2 separate regions of the Homo sapiens genome follow, and region 2 is linked to region 1. The links come from fine-mapping of genetic effects on gene expression. A gene starts in region 1. The other region holds a variant in brackets. All regions are shown on one strand. Distances are between the middles of the regions. Region 1 holds the start of ZRSR2 (zinc finger CCCH-type, RNA binding motif and serine/arginine rich 2). Region 2 overlaps ZRSR2 (zinc finger CCCH-type, RNA binding motif and serine/arginine rich 2).

The links. PIP is the estimated chance that this variant, and not a neighbour inherited with it, causes the effect. A credible set is the group of variants that fine-mapping cannot tell apart.
Region 2: its variant is the best candidate, but not a certain one, in a credible set for the expression of ZRSR2 in fetal neocortex (Walker 2019, PIP 0.80).

The regions. Positions count from the first base shown.
Region 1 is chrX:15,789,329-15,792,119 of GRCh38, reverse strand. ZRSR2 (zinc finger CCCH-type, RNA binding motif and serine/arginine rich 2) reads right to left here and starts at 1,636. Exons shown (of 11, transcript NM_005089.4): 1 at 1,584-1,636; 2 at 1,107-1,186. The coding sequence starts at 1,624. RefSeq lists enhancers at 149-650, 1,309-1,758.
Region 2 is chrX:15,809,964-15,812,754 of GRCh38, reverse strand. All of the region lies in intron 7 of ZRSR2 (zinc finger CCCH-type, RNA binding motif and serine/arginine rich 2), which reads right to left. Among named protein-coding and RNA genes, the nearest start is that of ZRSR2, 21 kb to the right of the region's middle. The variant GT/T (reference allele first, on the strand shown) is at 1,331.

The DNA.
Region 1 (2,791 bases):
AAACAATGGCTTCAGGTCAGGTGTGGTGGCTCATGCCTATAATCCCAGCACTTTGGGAGGCCGAGGTGGAAGGATTGCTTGAGGCCAGGAGTTCGAGACCAGCCCAGGCAACACAGTGAAATCCCGTCTCTACGAAAATTTTAAAAATTAGCCAGGTGGGCCAGGGGCGGTAGCTCACGCCTTTAATCCCAGCACTTTGGGAGGCTGAGGTGGGTGGATCACCTGAGGTCAGAAGTTCGAAACCAGCCTGGCCAACATGATGGGGTTTCACCCCATCTCTACTAAAAATACAAAAATTAGCCGGGTGTGGTTGCGCACGCCTGTAATCCCAGCTACTCGGGAGGCTGCAGCAGGAGAACTGCTTGAACCCAGGGGGCGGAGGCTGCAGTGAGCCAAGATCGTGCCACTGCACTCCAGCCTGGGCAACAGAGCGAGACTCCGTCTCAAAAAAAAAAAAAAAAAAAAAGAAAAGAAAAGAAAAAATTAGCCAGGTGTGGTGGTGAATGCCTGTAGTCCCAGCTACTAGGGAGGCTGAGGTGGGAGGACTGCTTGAGCCTGGGAGGTGGAGGCTGCTGTGAGCCGTGGTTGTGCACATCCCTCCTGGGCAACAGAACAAGACCCTGTCTCAAAAATAAATAAATGAGCTTCATAACTAGTATTATGTTGATATATATTTGAATAACATAATAATTTGGGTAAACCAAGGGTCTCATATTAGTCAAGTTTGAGAAAAACTTGCAAAACGTCTAATTAATACCTTCAACTCCTGCTGGTTTTACGAAGAAAAACATTCACCGAATACTTACTACGTGTGCAAGGACTGTGCTAGCTGCTGTAATTCATGAAGCTTGCAACTGTAATATTAGATACTTTATAAGTTACACAGAATCAGTGGGCGATCATTCACCAAGACTTCCTCTTCCTGCCTTTAGTATGTTAACATTGTTTCTGACATGTGTTTCTAAATAACTACTTGGGGGCAGAAGTCACAGCTATTTTTCCTCCGACACAATATTTGACTTCCTTCTGACACTGGGGCTTCAAGTTAGGGCTGGAGTGGACAGAGCAATTTCACAACACAGAAAACAGAATAAAGAGTCCATCACCTGAGTCTCTCAGTCGAGCAAGTTCCTGCCGACGTTTCTTTCGTTTCTCCTTCTTCAGGGCGGCCCTGTACTTTTTGTGGCTGGAAGATTAAGACATATACACGACGATCAGCGGCTACAATGCAGCGCTGCCCGAGCTCCCCGCTCCTCTGTGCCCAATGAAAGGAAATAGTTCGGGTGCTGAGGAGAGAAACCTTGCTTCCTGTATTTTAATTACAGAACAGCCATCTATCATCGCCTCATCCTCCCACTCCCAGACAGTTCTTCTCCATCCGCCAACCTGATCCTCTCCTCGCTTGCCTGAGCCACAGCCGCCCGTGCAAGTCCGGGGAGGGCACCAGAGCGCGCACCAGGAAGGAATGGAGCTGCCGCGGTGGCTCACTTAGCTTGGCCCAGCTTCTCTTTTCTTCCTGCCACCACATCCTCCATGCCCACGATCGGCCCGCTCGCCTGCTCATCTCCCCGTACGGCGCTTACCTTGGTTTCTCGGGAAACGTCATCTTCTCGGGCGCAGCCATCTTGCCGGCACCGCCCCGCCCCTCCAGGTCTGGCAGGAAAGGGCGGGCCTAAGAGTCGAGACGGGCACGCGCAGGCGCGGGTACCGAGCAACCTCCACCAGCGTGGGACTTGAAACGGAAAGCCGGAGGTACCCTTCGGCGGCTCGTCTTCCAGAACCCTGCTCAAATAAATACCTCCTTCCAGCAAAAATACTCTGGGGCTTTTACCCCGCCCTAGAAGTAATTGTCGCTTCAGCACTTGCCCAGTGCTGTATCACTGTCTCCCTCCTCGCCCTAGCAGGACGTGTTGTGGCTAGGCGGTTAAAGTCGTACTCTGCCGCTTTTCTCAGCATCCACTCATGAAGTCACATCGCGCACAGAGCTGCTCGCCCGGCTTTATTTCCGACCTGTCCAGGTTCCGCGTCCTTCCGCCGATCCACCTATCAGCGCCTCAGACAAAGCTCCAGACTTCGCTCCCTGCCAGTCACACCTGTTCTGGTCCCTTAAGCAAACCTAACTCCCAGGGCTGCAAAGCTGTTACCTCTGCCCCTGAGGAGTTTACAATCGAGGGGGCAGAGAAGAACCAATACATAATATGATGCAGGCAAAGATGAAGTTTACCTAACATAGTCCACCAAGGGATTCAGGGAGAGCTCTCTTTTTTTTCCTTTTTTCTTTTTTTTTCAGTATCACATGCGACTCAACTGCAGTATCAGGGACAGCTTTCTGATGCTAAGAGTTGAGTTTGGAAAGAAGATGCCCTTTACCCAGAAGGAGAAGGGTGGGAATGCAGTTACAGTCAGATCAGCATAAGCAAAGGCGCTGAAAGGTGAAAGTGGAATATGCTGGGAACAGCAAGAATTTTGGCAATCGAATTTATTTATTTATTCATTTCTTATATATTAGAGACAGGGTCTTGTCTTTCACCCAGGTTGGAGTGCAGTGGCGCAATCACGACTCGCTGCAGCTTCGACCTCCTGGGGTCAAGCAATCCTTCCACCTCAGCCTCCCGAGTAGCTGGGAATACAGGCGCGAGCCACCACGCCCGCCCAGCTATCCAATTTAAAGTGCAGTTCGAGGCTGGGTGCAGCGGCTCACGCCTGTAATCCCAGCACTTTGGGAGGCCTAGGCGGGTGGATCACCTGAGGTCAGGAGTTCGTCAGCCTGGCCAACATGGTGAAACCCCGT
Region 2 (2,791 bases), 21 kb before region 1:
TTGCTTTCAATTTCCTTTACTTTCTCTAACTTAATGTGCTAGATCACGAACCTTCTTTAAATCACTTTTGGAAGTAAGTGAGGTATAAATAGACCACTAAGTTTTACCTTCCATTAGTAATTATTACCTTTTAGGAGAAAAACAAATAGATTCCCCTCAAAGCTGTGACTCCAAAAAATACCAATTCCAGCATGGCTCTAGAATTGAACTCTGTACTAATTACAAAAACAACCAGCCAAAGAAATGCTGAGGTTATGGAAGTGTTCCTCTGATGCTCTGACAAAACTTAACGACAGAACAGAACAGCTGTACGATCTGGAGCAAGTCACCAAGGCTCTCCATAAAAAGGGAACAGAGCAGTCTACTTGTCTAAAGGGATGGTGCTGGATTTTGTAACTGCAAATTTCGCAGAATTTCATGTCACAACTTATCACTTGAATGATGAAAATCTCCACACTGCTGTTATACTTTGATAGTTGTGATGGTAAAATTTCATATGCCTATGAAAATTGTAAGAAATGTTCGCAGCCAGGCGCGGTGGCTCACGCCTGTAATCCTAGCACTTTGGGAGGCCGAGGCGGGCGGATCACAAGGTCAGGAGATCGAGACCATCCTGGCTAACATGGTGAAACCCCATCTATATTAAAAACACAAAAAATTAGCCAGGCGTGGTGGCGGGCCCCTGTGGTCCCAGCTACTCGGGAGGCTGAGGCAGGAGAATGGCGCGAACCCAGGAGGCGGAGTTTGCAGTGAGCGGAGATCGTGCCACTGCACTCCAGCCTGGGCGACAGAGCGAGACTCCGTCTCAAAAAAGAATAATAATAAAATAAAATAAAATAAAAAAAAGAAATGCTCGCAAACTAATTTGACCACTGTCCATATTTCCTTGAAATGACTTGAGGAGAGATGGGATCTGAGAGCATGACGGGCCATTCCCTCTTCCCACAAGGTAGGGCCTGTCAACCAAGTTCTCGAAATCGTTTAAGACATCTCCCCTCCTCTCACTTATGCCCAACAAAAGGAGAATTAGGCCGGGAGCAGTGGCTCATGCCTGTAATCCCAGCACTTTGGGAGGCCGAGGCACGTGGATCACAATGTCAAGAGATCGAGACCATCCTGGCCAACATGGCGAAACCTCGTCTATACTAAAAATACAAAAAAAATTAGCCAGGTGTGGTGGCATGCGCCTGTAGTCCCAACTACTCGAGAGGCTAAGGCAGGAGAATCGCTTGAACCTGGGAGGCAGAGCTTGCGGTGAGCTGTGATCATGCCACTGCACTCCAGCCTGGTGACAGGGCGAGACTCCGTCTCAAAAAAAAAAGGGGGGGGG[GT/T]GAGAATCAAGAATCAGGCTACCACGGGTCTTAAATTTGGAGGAAATGTTAGAGATAGATCCTACATGAGGGATCCTGCAGCTGGAAAACCTTAAATGCAATTTGGTTCAAGTACCCATGCAAATGTGAACTTACATGGAGTCTCAGTTGTCTCTGAAAGGTAATTCACAGTGCATTTTTCTTTGGTGGGAAGTTTTTTACACCAATCATTACCATTTCTTGTTTAGATAAAGTGGATATCTGAGAAATGGTTCTAAAGGTATCAAAGGGAATAAAGTCTCTTTCCTTTTCTTAGTTCCCAGTTTTTCAAGAGGAGGCTTTCTACTAGTTAGCAGATCCCATGACTCTTTTCACAGACATTCCAGACATCTGCAATCCCACCTCTAAAATACAAAAGGACATACACACTTGACATTAGTGGCTCTCAATCCTAGGGCACACTAGAGACACCTGAGGACATTTTGAAACTAAGGCCACCCAAGTCCCTGGTATTCTTATTATTTATTTATATAATATTTTTATATAAATATATATAAATATATTATTTATTTATTTTACTTTTTTTTTTTTATAGATACCAGGTTTTACCATGTTGCCCAGGCTGGTCTCAAACTCCTGAGCTCAAGTGATCTGCCTGCCTTGGCCTCCCAAAGTGCTGGGATTATAGGTGTGAGCCACCGCGCCTGGCCCTGATATTCTGATTTACTCAACTTGAGGTAGGACATAATTTTTTAAAGCTTTCTAGATGACTCTAATGTGCATCCAGGGTTGGGAACCACTGTTCTTAAAAAATGAAAAATGGTGTGAACGCTTAAATTCAAAAAGAAAAAGGAGAGAACCATAGAGAAGGATATATTTTCAAAGAAGAAGAAGAAGGAAAAAAACCTCACAGCATGGATACTTTTATGAATAAAGTAAAGCTGACAGATGACATATGGTTTCTGATTAAATACATCTGAATTTTACTATTCATATCCCTTTTCAGGATTAATAGGATGTTAAGGTTATGATTAGATCTTCTCTTCTGCAGAATATATGGTGATAATTATCAGATTTTGCCTCAGATGGACTCATTCACCATTAGGAATTATTTACCTACTTTAAGTTGTTCATTAATAAACAGGCCAAATTATAAAAATCACCATTACCTGGCATATAATAGGTGTTCGAAGACTTGCTAAATGACTGAAGAGATCAACACTAGGTTTCCACATGAACGTCTTCTTTCAAAAACATTGACCCAAAAGGGGCAGGGAACAAGAAGAGTGTCTCACAGAATAACATCAAGAGTCACAATAATGAAAATGCCAGCAAGCACTCCTGGGGCCCTGTTCTACGGGTGTGTGTGCTCATTTCGGCCTCACAGCCCCCTCAGAAAGATGAGACTATGTTTAATCCCATTTCATAGATGAGAGAACGAAGGCACACAGAGCTTAAGCAACTTTCCCAAACTGGCAGCC